Linked DNA regions of Homo sapiens. The protein of the gene in region 1 interacts with the protein of each later gene in a biochemical or structural test. Each region holds a gene or a part of one and is shown on either strand. Other genes may lie near its edges.

Evidence for each region.
Region 2: the proteins of LEP (region 1) and SIGLEC6 interact in a biophysical measurement, tested with the Homo sapiens proteins (one study listed by IntAct).

The regions. Positions count from the first base shown.
Region 1 is NC_000007.14:128,251,268-128,258,141, reverse strand, and holds the end of LEP (leptin precursor), read right to left. Parts: intron 6,152-6,874; 5' UTR 6,124-6,151; coding exon 5,980-6,123; intron 3,739-5,979; coding exon 3,379-3,738; 3' UTR 513-3,378; downstream 1-512. UniProt on the Homo sapiens protein: Key player in the regulation of energy balance and body weight control. Once released into the circulation, has central and peripheral effects by binding LEPR, found in many tissues, which results in the activation of several major signaling pathways.
Region 2 is NC_000019.10:51,528,659-51,536,364, forward strand, and holds the start of SIGLEC6 (sialic acid-binding Ig-like lectin 6 isoform 1 precursor), read right to left. Parts: upstream 3,013-7,706; 5' UTR 2,991-3,012; coding exon 2,924-2,990; intron 2,862-2,923; coding exon 2,502-2,861; intron 2,302-2,501; coding exon 2,023-2,301; intron 1,860-2,022; coding exon of another isoform or gene 1,827-1,859; coding exon 1,779-1,826; intron 1,324-1,778; coding exon 1,066-1,323; intron 966-1,065; coding exon of another isoform or gene 922-965; exon of another isoform or gene 317-921; intron 1-316. UniProt on the Homo sapiens protein: Putative adhesion molecule that mediates sialic-acid dependent binding to cells. Binds to alpha-2,6-linked sialic acid. The sialic acid recognition site may be masked by cis interactions with sialic acids on the same cell surface.

The DNA.
Region 1 (6,874 bases):
CTGGCCACCAAATCAGAATGGAGGGGTACATTGTGCTGGGCATTGTGCCAAATTAGTTGCATCATGAGGTGATGCTGAACTCTTTATTTCTTCTCTCTTCATTCCCCTCATCCCTCTTTCCCTGTGGATCCTGTCCTTCTTCCATCCCAGTGGATGCCTCTTTCTGTCCTTGCTCTGTCCCGTGTTAAGGGGCCTCTCCAAAGTGGATCCCTTCTTCCCGAGGACCCCTCTCTTTGTCCTCATTCCTTGGGATGGCACAGAGGCCTCTCTCTGGCTCTTGGTGTGTGCTTCCTGTGCCTCCCTGCAACCTGTTTCCCAGTCCTCTCAGCGTCCAAACCCAGCTCTGTTTTCTTTACAGGGTAATCCTTTTGCCTGAATAACTGGCGGCTGGCTGTGGCCAAGCCTGGGGCGGAGCTGACCCCAGTGATGGATGGGGGCCAGCCAGGCCTTGCCCTGTCACACACAAACAGCTCTCCCGAAGCCCCTCCAGGAACGGCGACAGGAAACAAAGAGCAGGGGGCAAAGTTATTTTATTTAGATTTTTTTAAAAACAAACTTTTTTTTTTTTTTTTTTAAGACGGAATCTCGCTCTGTCATCAGGCCGGAGTGCAGTGGCGCGATCTTGGCTCACTGTACTCTCCGCCTCCCAGGTTTAAGCGATTCTCCTGTCTCAGCCTCCCGAGTGGCTGGGACTACAGGCGCCCGCCACCACGCTCAGCTAACTTTTGTGTTTTTAGTAGAGACGGGGTTTCACCATGTTGGCCAGGATGCTCGCCATCTAGTGACCTTGTGATCCCCCCACCTTGGCCTCCCAAAGTGCTGGGATTACAGGCGTGAGCCACCGCACCCGGCCAAACTTTTTTTTTTTTTTTTAAGTTACAAAAACAGACAACCATTTATACTTAGGAAGTTTCACACTCTGGGAATTAGCCATTGTGCCAGGTTTTGTGAGCAAAAGGCTTAAGACACCTCAGCCTGATTAGGTGGTTGTGAGGATCTGGGTCACATTTTCCAGAGCAGCTCTCACCCTGGCCACAGCACCAGCCTCTTCTCTAGAACTTGCTACTCTTAACTCCTTTAATATCAAACTTCTTTACCCTTCAAGGTCCCTTCAGCATGGCCCTTGCCCTCCTGTCTCTTCTTTCTCTGCCTCTCGCTGTAACTCACTGCTCACACTTTTACCTCTGCATCTCCACACACCAAACCTTCCAACAAAACAGGCTTCTCTCTGCAGGCAATTCACATCCCTCACCTCCTTCAAACTCTACCTCGAAACTCCTCTTTTCCAGAAAGCGCTCGGTCTCCCTGGTTCCAGTCCCTCATTACCTGGCTCACGTAATGCTCTGGGTATCAGAGGACCTGGGCTATAGTCCTGGTCCTGCCACCTGTTGGCTGTTATGGTCTTATGTATTTTCTTATTTTTAAATTCTCAGTTATCTTGTTTCAAAGGGATGTGGCTATAATAGAAGCTAAGATGCCCTGAAAAGTAAACATGTTACAAAGTGCAAGCAGGGTTCCCTGTGGGCCCCTGGGCACGGCCCCCCTCAGCTCATACCATTTCCCACCTGCTGTCAACTGCACCATGCATTTGGCTGTTCAGCTGCTGTGGTAAATACCCCACCTTGGCACATGGGTGAGTGCGGTTTGACCACTGGGAATGCAAGATCCCTGAGGGCAGGCCTCAATCTTAATGTTTATTGGGTGAGCTTCTCCAGCCTATAGCACCAGTCAGGGCTGAGCATGAAGCAGGTGCTCAGTCTTAAAGTTAACTGCTTTGATTCAAGTTTCCTTGGACAGATCCACCACCCACTGTGTGATAGCAAAAACACAGCAGCAGGATGGTGGCAGACCCCAAACCTCCTCTTTCATCTTCCTGAATGTGACCTCCAGTGGGAAGGGCCATCCTGGTGGCCTGGCCTGGGGAGTCCTGGCACTCGCCTAGCAGTGCTTGTCAGGTCTCAGGACCACCTGCTAAAGGAGTTTTCTTCACCACTGGAGTAAAAACCCCCCAAGATTTTTGGTAATTTTGGCCTTGCTTGGGTGAGCCAATCAGACAAGAACTACAATTTGGCATGCAAGCCCCAAATAGGAACACTGCCATGTAATAAACCCAGAGTGTGATCAACCCTGGACCATTCAGAGGGTCACACCAAGGACCCCTGCTCTGAAGATCGCAGTCACCAGTGTGGGACCGTCACTCCATGATAGGAAAGACCACTCCCTAGCAGTCGGAGAAAGCCAGAGCTTACCACTGCCCCAACAAATGGCTTTCAGCCCTTTGCGTTTTATTCTGGATGGATTTGAAGCAAAGCATCAGCTTCTCCAGGCTCTTTGGGGTCAGCCAGGGCCAGAAACTTCTCTCCAGGGGGTGCCTGGCCAGGCCTCACAACCCCCCTGAAAGAGCTATTTTCATGAAAAACATCCTAAGCAATTGCAGAAGATAAGAAAATGATCTCACTCCTTCCAAAGAACCCACCACACAAATGTTATTCAGAAAACACATTCTAGATCCTTCTCCCTTCTGCCCAAACATTCCCCACCCCTGGGTGCAGACACCTACATATGACACTTGACAAAACAAATCTTTTTAAAATAACCTGGTCCTTGGAGATCCACTCAGGGCAACACCATTGCAAACACTGTGATGTAACATCAGTCACAGTAGAAATGAAACCAGTTACGAGAGAACTAACTGGAGAGCCACCTTTGCCAGCTCTTGCTCAGATGAACCCAACCCTCGAGTCACTCAAAATGGGTTCAGCTCAGCCAGACCCATCTATGGGATTGGAAACTGCACTCCAGGGAGACCCCTGGCCCTGGCTGACCCCAAAGAGCCTGGAGAAGCTGGTGCTTTGCTTCAAATCCATCCAGAATAAAATGCAGAATAAATAAACATGTGCTTCCAGCTTGTGTTGCTGGGAGTTCCTGCGTGTGTGGATGTGGTCTTCATGGAACTCCTTGGAATTCTCAGAGGGAACCTTGTTCTGGTCATCCAAAGGCTCTGCCTACCCCTCTGCCCTCTCTGAAATCACCCCTGGTCACATTGAGGCATTCAGTGAGGGGGAGATGGGTCAAGAGGGGACAAGACAACTCTTGTTGATGGCTGAAGACCTTGGTGGGAATCCCAGATGCAGCCCACTCTTTGCTGGGTGGACCCCCTTCCTGGTGAGAATAGGATCCTGTGTATATATCTTTGGTTTCAAGCAAAAGGAGGCTTAGGGTCTTATGCCTTTGGAAGAGTGGCTTAGAGGAGTCAGGGAAATTGACAGAGTCCTGGATAAGGGGTGTCCATGCAATGCTCTTCAATCCTGGAGATACCTGGAAGCCAGAGTTCCTTCCCTTAACGTAGTCCTTGCAGGAAGAGTGACCTTCAAGGCCTCAGCACCCAGGGCTGAGGTCCAGCTGCCACAGCATGTCCTGCAGAGACCCCTGCAGCCTGCTCAGGGCCACCACCTCTGTGGAGTAGCCTGAAGCTTCCAGGACACCCCCCAGGCTGTCCAAGGTCTCCAGGCCACTGGCCCAGGGCAAGTGGCAGCTCTTAGAGAAGGCCAGCACGTGAAGAAGATCCCGGAGGTTCTCCAGGTCGTTGGATATTTGGATCACGTTTCTGGAAGGCATACTGGTGAGGATCTGTTGGTAGACTGCCAGTGTCTGGTCCATCTTGGATAAGGTCAGGATGGGGTGGAGCCCAGGAATGAAGTCCAAACCGGTGACTTTCTGTTTGGAGGAGACTGACTGCTATGCAGGAGGAAGAGGGAGAACAAGTGCTCAGCATGTGGGAGGAATCGCTCTCAGAGCCCTCTGCCTTCCCCGTGGGCATGGAGGGTCATTCTCTGGGCTGCCTCCTTCCACCCTCCCTCACCACTTTGGCTCAGGCCCTTGTATCCTGCACCCAGGTGACTGCCAAGCCTCTAAGCTGGTCTCCGAGATTCCTGCTTTTCCCACACCATCCTTCCCTCCACTTCCAGGCCAACTTTCCTAGGTCATTCCTTTCTCTACATGGCCTCTGCTGAAGAACCAGCCATGGTTTCATATGTTTTATTTAGTGGAGTCTGTTCCCCAGGCATCTGAGGTCCTCCATAAGCACCCCCACCCCCAGCCTTCCCTAGTCCCTTCTACCCCCAGCCGAGTCCTCCCTCCCAGTCAGCTTTTCCAGGCAGTCCCTCCTCCTTAGAGATCAAGGCCGTACCCTCAGTGAGGCCCCCCAACCCTGCTCCAGTGACTCCAGTTCCGGGAGGCTCTCCCCATCCATCTGCCCACAGCACTGAGGCTGACACCTCCGTGGTTACTACCCGGGGCTCCCGTGATATTGTGTATTACACCACCCAAGGTGGGGCACTCGGGATCTATCACGTGCAGTCTTGCTGAGTGGCTAATATGCCCAGCTAATTTTTTTTTATTATTTTTAAAGGAGACAAGAGTTTTTATCTATAAAATGCCCAAGACTCTATCTAGTTCTGAGCCATCTTTGCTTCCAGACACCTAACTTCTCCCTAACTGCCCAAGACTACCATAAGACACCCACAATGACCAGGAGACGTGGAAGTCTCCAGAGAGCTCCATGCAGGGGGTAAGGAGGATTCAATTGCTTTAGCTAATTTAGGCCTCATAACAACCTTGTGAATAGTGTGTGATATCCCCATTATCCAGATGATGAAAACAAGGCTTAAAGACAGTAAGGAACTTGCTGAAGATCTCACAGACATCAGAAGTGTGAAGATTCAAACTTAATCTTCCTAATTTCAAATACAGACCTCATCAGGAAAATGGCTGAAGGTCTAGGCCTGCTGGACCCCAGAGAAAAGACCAGGGTGGGCACTGACTGCTATTTGCAAATCAGTAGAGGGTTGAATGTGAAAAAGGGTAGACTCGCTCTTTTGGGTATCTTTGAGCGGCAGGGCCAGAGATCAGCTGGAACTACAAGAACCCTAATGACAAGCACATCTAGAGATGGGATAGAGGCCCTGAGGAGATGCTTCTGGGGGTCTTGTTCCTGCCAATGGGACACAAGGAACTTCACAGCTCCCTCTGGTCGTAGGCACTAAGATTCAAGGAAGTGAAGTCAGGGAGGAAGGCGAGCGCAGAAGGTGGGGACAGAGGGGACAGGAAGGAAAGAGACAGTGGCTGTGCCTGCATGTGGCTCAGCTAATCGCTGAGGCCTGGGTTTCCCCTTGGTAGGTTGAAAATAAGCACGTGAGGCCTCATGAGAATCCTATGATTTTTTTCTTATCTTTAATTTTTATTTTTTTAAAAATTAGAGAGAGAGGTCTTGCCATGTTGCCCAGGCTGGTCTTGAACTCCTGGCCTCAACTGATCCTCCTACCTTGGCCTCCTAAAGCAATGGGCTTACAGATGTGACCCATCATGCCTGATCAAATCCTATGACTTTTATTTATTTATTTATTTATTTTGAGACAAGGTCTCACTCTGTCACCCAGGCTGGAGCACGGTGGCATGATCAGGGCCCACTGCAGCCTCAACCTCCCAGGCTCAGGTGATCCTTCCATCTCAGCCTCCCCTAGCTGGGACCACAGGTACACACCACCATGCCCAGCTAACATTTTTTATTATTTTTGTAGAGATGGGGTCTCCCTATGCTGCCCAGGCTGGTCTCGAACTCTTGGGCTCGAATGATCCTCCTGCTTTGGCCTCCCAAAGTGCTGGGATGACAGGTACAAGCCACCACACCCAGCCCAAATCCTATGATTTTTAAATGGAAACATGTAGCAAAATCAAATGTTCTTGGAGTGGTTTAGAATTAGAACCACTAACCCCTGGAATCTCAGCAGGCAGAGGGGCCAAAAGAAACAACCAGAAAGAGTGGAGCCCTGTGCTTTCAAATCCTTCTCAGCTTCCAGTAGGTGCCTGGCATTCAGGAGGCGTTCAATAAATGTTTCTTGGACTATCTGGGTCCAGTGCCACTAGGAGCCAGTGCTGGGCTGGCTGCAGTTCTACTTTGTCCCCGCATACTCTCCTTACCGTGTGTGAAATGTCATTGATCCTGGTGACAATTGTCTTGATGAGGGTTTTGGTGTCATCTTGGACTTTTTGGATGGGCACAGCTTGGACATAGAAAAGATAGGGCCAAAGCCACAAGAATCCGCACAGGGTTCCCCAATGCATTTTCCTTCCCAGGATGGGCTTCTTGGGCCTGAAAACAGAAGGAACCACACACTGCAAGGAGCCGGTATCTCAGAATACACCCATCTTCACATTACCAACCACATTACCAGACGGGGATGAAAATCAGCTTTGCTTTCTGCTCTGGCTACCATCCCCTCAAAGTCAAAGACAATTCATGATCTACATATGTATTAATGAAATGCATCCCCTTAGAAAGAGGATTATTGTCTGGTCAATAAAACCACCATGAGGTATCCTGTAGACCACAGAGCTGTGAGGCCAGGGTGTGATCAAATGGACATGGTAGGGATGATGTAGACTTCATTGCATGCTCGAGGGAAAGATAACAGACTTTTAAGGTCTGGTTTGAACCCAGTCATTTACTCACTGCATAATTTTAAACATATCACATAACCACAAAATACTCCACCTTCATCCCTGTAATATATCTATCTCTAGGCTTTTATGAGGATCAAATTATCTGATGCACGTGAAAGGGCTTAAAGGTGTTGTGAAATGTGCTCTATCATTACCCTATCATTAGCGATTATGCTACTCACCCATCCTCTGCATTTCTCCCTCACACCAGCCTGCTGATACTCTGTGAGGGCCTTTACCACTTGCTTCCTTACGTCCTTTCTCTCCCACCCACTGGGAGCCTGAATCCCACTAGCACTTACTGACCTTCTAAATAATATGTCAGACGCAGTGCTCAGCACCGAGGATGCAATGGTGAACAACAGATGCTCTC
Region 2 (7,706 bases), on another chromosome or scaffold:
AATCCAATATGACTGTTGTCCTTATAAAAAGGGGAAAATGTGGGTCGGGTGCAGTGGTTCACACCTGTAATCCCATCATTTTGGGAGGCCAAGGCTAGCAGATCACCAGGTCAGGAGATCGAGACCATCCTGGCCAACATGGTGAAACCCTGTCTCTACTCAAAATATAAAAATTAGCTGGGCATGGTGGTGGGCGCCTGTAGTGCCAGCTACTCGGGAGGCTGAGGCAGGAGAATCTCTTGAACCCGGGAGGTGGAGGTTGCATATGTCAGATTACCATGTTGCAGTGAGCCAAGATCGCACCATTGCATTCCAGCCTGGCAACAGAGTGAGACCCTCTCTCAAAAAAAAAAAAAAAAAGGGAAAATGTGGACACAGACGCACATGTGGACACAGACACCACCATGTGAAGATTAAGTCAGAGGTCGAGGCAATGCTTCTTTAAGCCTAGGAACGCCAAAGACTCCCAGGAAACCACCAGAAGCCAGGGAAGGAGCATGGAAGAGATTCTCTCACAGCCTCAAAAGGAACCAACTCTAACACCATACATGATCTTGGACTTCTGACCTTGAGAACCGTGAGACAATAAATCCCTATTGTTTAAGTCGTGCACTTTGAATTACTTTGTTATGGCAGCCCTAGCAAACTCATACAAGGACCCAGGCTTCTCTTCCCCCAATTGTCACCTCTTAGCAGACTCCTGACCTGGCAGCAGCTGGGACAGAGCTGCTCTGGGATGTTCTGGGCCTCAAAGCTGAGCCTGAGACTTGAGCTGAATCCCTGGCAGGGGCTCAGGGAGCTGTTGACCAAGGGTCCGGCTGGCTGGGGGTGACTGTGAAGGAGCCATGGCTGCTGTTCCCATCCCTCCAGAATCTCCTCCCCAAGCTGCCAGTGCAGGGAGGAGCCACTGCAGTGTGGACTCTAAGCCTCCCAGAGGTAGGAGGGTCCCAGCAGTTGTGAGGGGTCTGGGGAGGGAGGACAGGACTTAGCAGGGGCCTCTTCTCTGAATACTATGGAGCTCTCGCCCAGCTGCCCACACTCTCGCGCACCTCCCCCCACACTCACAATGCACAAAGAGACTCAGAGAGATTTGCAGGGAGCCCAGAGGATGCTGAGCACGGCAGGTGAAATCTCCTTCTTCTGCAGACCCTACTTGAGGCAGCTCCAGGACCCCGGTATTGGAGATGGGGGTGGCGTTCAGGGCGGGGAAGCCCTGGAACCAGCTCAGGTGTGCAGGGGGGTTGCCGTCAGCATCACAGAGCAGCCGCAGAGCCTGGCCCTCCAGGACAGGGAGGGACGAGGTGTTTTGCAGGATTTTGAAGGCTTTGGGGAGAGAGGTGTAGAGAGTTAGAGATGGGGTATAGGGGCAAAGCACTGGTGTCCCTCTCCTCCTGTGGGGTCCACACTAGCTCTGAGGAGGAGACTAGTAAAGTGGGGGCCTCAGGTCTTCAGAAAAGCCCAGACCATTTCCCTGGAGCTGCCCAGGCTGTCCTGCAGAGAGTGGAGCAAGGGCTGCGGACAGCGTCGTGGCAGACAAGTGCCATTCCTGGACCATGGAGACGCCTGAGGCAGTAGGAAAACAAGCAAGAGAGAAGAGGGAGTGCGAGGGGTGTGGCAGCTCCTGCCGAAGAGGCGACAAAGGCTGGGGGTGAGCAAAGATTCAGTCCAGGTCTTTGAAGTCTATGGAGGCCTTAGTCCTGGCTTCTCATATTGATCCCCGTTAGTCCCCACTCTGCTTCCATCTGGCCCTGGAGAGAACAGGACTGGCTGGTTCCTACCTGCGCTGTTTCCTTGGAAGATGCTGATGGCCACTTTCTGTGGAGCATCTGGGGTGGAAAGAGGTGGCCGCCTCAACATCCCTGAGGAGGGATGGTAGGCATGGGGCCTTCCCCTCAGGAGCCATGAAAACAGGGAAAGGGGCTCTCCTCTTTGGCAACCAGGTCCCCAACTTTAAGCTCTGGCTCAGCCCTGCCCTGTCCCCCCACACCCTCAGGGACCCGGGCGTCCTGGCCCAGCACTCACAGGAGACATTGAGCTGGATGGTTCTCTCCATGGTCACACCGGCTCCAGGGAACGTCACCTGACAGGTGAGGTTGGTGCTGTGGTCCTGGGGCCGTGGGGTGATTGTGAGCACCGAGGACTGGGTGGTCCTGGGGCCCAGGGAGGTGGGGGCAGCTGACATCCAGGAGAAGATGGGGGGCGTCCCCTGCTCACAGACCCAGGGCACAGAGCAGGTCAGATTGCTGGGATGGCCAGACTCCAGGGTCCCTGGGATGGAGATGTTGGGCCTGTGGGTCAGGGCTGGTGAGGAGATGGGGACGCAGGATCAGGATGGAGGTCTGAGGTTTCACCCAGGGGGAAGCCCAGTCTCTGGTCCAGCTCCTTCTCTGAGCCCAACATGCTTAATTGTACCCGCCTCCCAAGACGGGGCTCCCGTCCCAGCCCTGCCCTACGGCCCCCATGACCTTCCCCTGTGGCTAGTCCTGGAGCTGGTTCCTTACCCATCACACGCACAGAGAGCTTGGAAGATGTATAACCGTATTTCATCCATTTGGACTTCAACCGAAAGAAGTATGCAGCATTGTCCCTCCTCCGGGCATCTCTGATGCTCAGGGAGCAGTTCTTCCTTCTGGGATCCCAGAGGAGGTGGAATCGGCCCCGGGTCTCCTCCTGCACTTCTTCGTCTGGGTCGTTTGTGGCCACTGGAACATCAGCCCCTTCCAGGAACCAGTAGCCATAACCATAGTACGAGGCTGGAAGGGTAGTGGGCAATCTGCAGGGTACGAGGACGCACAGACCCTCCTGCACCGTCAGTGACTCTGGCCCCTCCAGCTGGAATCTCCGCTCCTGAGCCAGGGCCCCTATGGAGACATGAGGGTCAGCTCGGCCCAGCCCCACGGCACCTCTCCCCTGGCCCACTCACCTGCCCACAGCAGGGGCAGCAGCAGCGGTAGCATCTCTGAGGCGGAGGCTTCCTGGGCTCCCTGCATGAGCAGAGAAGGGGAAGGGAGTGGAGGGGAAGGACTGCGGGGAGGAACGGGTGGCTGGGGAGGAGCGCGTGATCTCGGCTGTTCACAGAAGAGGAACTGCGAAGCCACAAGCCCTCGGAGCTCCACTCCCTCTGCACAGAGCAGACGGAAACTTTGAGACCCAGAGACCTGCCCAAAGAAGAGCAGAGGAGAAGAGACTGTGTCCCGCCTCCCACCTCGGGGCTTCCTGTGAGCAACAGAGCCCGGACCAGGGCCTCCCGGGGCATCTGAGGAATGCGAAACCTGTGTCCAAGGCCCTGCCCACCTGAGGTGCTTTTCTGTGCACCACTGTTTACACCTGGGAGCTGGTCACTCCTGGCCCCAGAGAGTCACAGCCTCATCCCACGCCATGAGAAAGTCAGTCCTGCAGGATATAGGATTCTGTAGGGTCTGTGGGAGTGTCTGGGACAGTGAAAGGAAGAAGGGTCCCAGGTGCAGTGTGGGTGATAGCCACTCATTCATTCACTCATTCATTCATTCATTCATTCATTCACCAAAGACATAGTGAGCATCTGTATGTAGGTCGGGCTGGAGAAGAGATGCCAGGGACCTGGTCCCTACCCTTGAGATGATCCCCATCCATAGCTTCCCATCCTCAGCACACACCCTCACTATCTAGCTTTAGAGCTGTGGACACTGGTGAGTTTGCCAAGTGACACAGTAGAATGCCAGATATTTTTTAAAACATGAGTATGGAGGTTTTTCCTTGACAGCTAGTACGCTGATTTACAAAATTTCAATGACATCTCCAAAATAAGAACCATGCAACATCTTCATGTAAATCAAAAAGGACACATATTTTATGAACTGCAGTGCAGAAGAAACTTCTTTTGAATTAATGTTGCCACTCAGTGCAGTGTGGACTGGAGAGATTTTTTTTTAGGTCCTCATCATAGAGATTAGCAATTTCTTTCCTGTGAAAAATCTGCTTCTCACAGTTAAATGTGGCACAAAAGACATATTTCTGGACAACGTGAGCAGAATATCCTGACAAAATTAAAATTTTTAGGTCTAGCTCACATGGTTTTCTATTTTCCTCTGTGCAGTATGCATCTGGCAAATCTCTAATACCTATGAGGTATTAGAATTTGCCACCATATATTTGTAAATTTTTTTATTTCTACAAACTTAAGGAGTAGATGTAAAATTTTTTTGCATGTATATAATGCGTAATGATTATGTCAGGATATTTAGAGTGTCCGTCACGTGAGTGCAATACATTCTTGTTAACTAAAATCACACTATTCTGCTCTCTAACGCTGAATTTATTCCTTTTAACTGTATGTTTGTAGCACTTCACTCACTTCTCTTCATCTTCTGTCCTCCCCCATCTGACCCTTTCCAGTCTCTGTTGTCTATCTTTCTACTGTCCACCTCCATGTGATAATATTTTTTTAGCTCCCACATGTAAGTGAGAACATGCAACATTTGTCTTTTTGTGTCTGACTTATTTCAATTTAGATAATGAATTCTAGTCCCATCCATGTTGCTGCAAATGACACGATTTCATTCTTTTTTATGGCCAAATAGCATGTATACTATATTTTCTTTATCCATTCATCTGTTAATTGACACTTAGGTTGGTTCCATATCTCTGATATTGTGAATAGTGCAGCAAAAATCATGTGAATGCAGGTATCTCTTTGATGTATTTCTTTCTTTCCCTTCGGGTAGATACCCAGTAGTGGGATTGCTTGAGTGATCGAATAGTAATTCTATTTTTAGTTCCTGAGAAATGTCCATAGTGTTTTCAAAAGTGGCTGTACTAGTTTAAATTCCCACCAACAGTACAGAAGAGTTATCTTTCTCCTCATCCTTGCCAAAATCTGTTATTTTTTGTTTTTTTAGTAATAGTCATTCTGACTGGGTAAGACGGTATCTCATTTTGGTTTAGATGTGCACTTCTCTGATGATTAGTGACGCTGACCATTTTGTCGTATTGGCTGTTCTTATGTATTCTTTGAGAACTGTCTATTCCTGTCCTTTGCCCACTTTTTACTTGGATTATTTGCTTTTTCCTGTTGAGTTGTTTGAGTTCCTTGTATAGTCTGGATATTAGTCTCCTGTCAGAAGAATAGTTTGCGAATATTTTCTCCAATTCAACAGGTTGTTTCTTCACTCTAATTATTTCTTTTCCTGGCAGAAGCTTTTTGTTTATTAAGTCCCATTTGTTTATTTTTGTTTTTGTTGCCTGTGCTTTTCAGAACTTAGTCATAATTTCTGACTCTTCTGACCAATGTTCAAAAGAGTTTTCCCTAGGTTTTCTTGTAGCTGTTTTTTTTTTTTATAGTTTTGGGTCTTACATTTAAGTGTATGATTCATTTTGAGTTTTTTTTTAATATGGTGAGAGAGAAGAATCCAGTTTCATTCTTTTGTGTGTGGGTATACAATTTTCCCAGCACCATTTATTGAAGAAGGTGTCCTTTCCTCAATATAAGTTCTTGTCAGTTTTGTTGACAATCAATTGGCTGTATACATGTGGCCTTATTTCTGGGTTATATTCCATTGGTCTATGTATCTATTTCTATACCAATATCATGCTGTTTTGGTTATTATAGCCTTGTAATATACTTTGAAGTCAGGTAAAGTGATACCACCAGCTTTGTTCTTTTTTCTCCGGATAGCTTTGGCTATTCAGGTTCTTTTTGGATCCATATGAATTTTATAATTGTTTTTTACAATTCTGTGAAGACTGACATTGGTATTTTCATATGGATTACATTAAATCTTTAGATTGCTATAGACCAGTGTGGGCTTCTTAACTATCTTAATTCTTCCAGTCATGAGTATGGGATGTTTTTCCATTTGTTTGTGTCATCTTCAATTTCTTTCATCAGTGTTTTTTAGTTTTTCCTGTATAGATTTTCACCTGGTAGGTCATTAAGAGCATATTGTTTAATTTCCATACATTTGTCTTGTTTCCAGAGTTCCTCTTGGTGCTGACTTGTTGTTTTGTTCCATTGTGGTCTGAGTATACATTGAGTAAATATTGATTTTTTTTTTAATTTATAGAGACTTATTTCGTAGCCGAATATATGGTGTATCCTGGAGAATGTTTCATGTACTGATGAAAAGAATATGTATTCTGCAGTTGTTGGGTAGAAGTTCTGTAAAAGTCTGTTAGTTCCATTTGGTCTATAGTGTAGTTTAAATGTGATGTTTGTTTGTTGATTTTCTGTCTAAGTGATCTGTCTTACTGAGAATAGGGTGGTGAAGCTTCCCACCATTATTGTATTGCATTCTATCTCTCTCTTTAGATCTAGTAATATTTGCTTTATAGATATGGCTGCTCCATTGCTGGGTGCATATATATTTAGAATTGTTATATCCTCTTGCTGGGTTGATCCCTTCATCATTATATAATGACCTTCTTTGTCTTTTTCTACTGCTCTTGACCTAAGGTCTGTTTTATCTAAGTATAGTTACTGCTGCTTACTATTGGTTTCCATTTGTGTGGAATATCTTTCTCCATCCTTTTACTTTTGGTCTATATGTGTCTTTTCTTAAGGTGTGTTTCTTTAAGCTGCACACTGTTGAGTCATTTTTAAAATCCATTCAGCCATTCTATATCTTTTAAGAGGATACTTTAATCCATTTACATACATGGTTATTATTGATTTGTGAGGCTTTCTTTCTGTCAGGTTATTAAACATTTTCTTGTTTTAAACATTCGTTGTTTCTTTCCTTTTATCTTATTGTTTGTCCTTGTGATTTGGTGGATTTCTGTAGTGGTACCATTTGAGTCCTTTCTAGTTCTCATTTGCATGATTGCTTTACCAGTGAATTTTTTACTTTCATATGTTTTCGTGATGATAAAATCATCCTTTTGCTTCCAGGTTTAGGACTCCTTTGAGTATTTTTTCCAAGGCTGGTCTAGTGGTAATAAATTTCATCAGCATTTGTTTGTCTTGGGATGAATCTATTTCTCTTTTATTTATGAAGAATAGTTTCTTTGCATGTTCTGTGGTGGCAGTTATTTTTTCTTTTAGCACTTAGAATATATCAGTTCCTTCTTTTCTGGTGTGTAAGGTTTCTACTGAGAAATCTGCTCTTAGTCAAATGGAATTTCCTTTAGAGGTAGCTAGATGCTTTTCTCTTGCTATTTGTAGAATTTGCTCTTTAACTTTGACTTCACACAGTCTGACTATAATGTGCCAAGGAGAAGACCTTTTGCATTGGGGATCTGCCCGGGGATCATTGGGCCTTCTGTATCTCTATACCTAAATCTTTTGTTAGACTTGGGATGTTTTCATGTATTATTTTGCTGAGTAGGTTTTCCAATATTTCTTTGTTTTTTCACCCTTAGAGATACCAGTAATTTATAAATTCCATTGCTTTTTGTTGTCCTAAATGTTATTAAGGCTATGCTCATTATTTTTTGTACTTTTCCCTTTATTTTTGTCTGACTAGATTATTTCAAAAAACCTGTCTTCAAGTTCCAAGATTCTTCTGCCAGATTTAGTCTATTATTGAACTTTTCAAATGTGTTTTGCATTTCCTTCAATTAACTATTCAGTTCCAGAATTTATATTTGGTTATTTTAAAAAATATATATCTCTTTGATCATTTTCTCATTTATACCCTGAATTGTTTTTCTGGTTTCCATAGTATTGATTTTCAGAATTCTGTTGTATCTCACTGAGCTTCTTTAACATCAATATTTTGAATTCTTTGTCT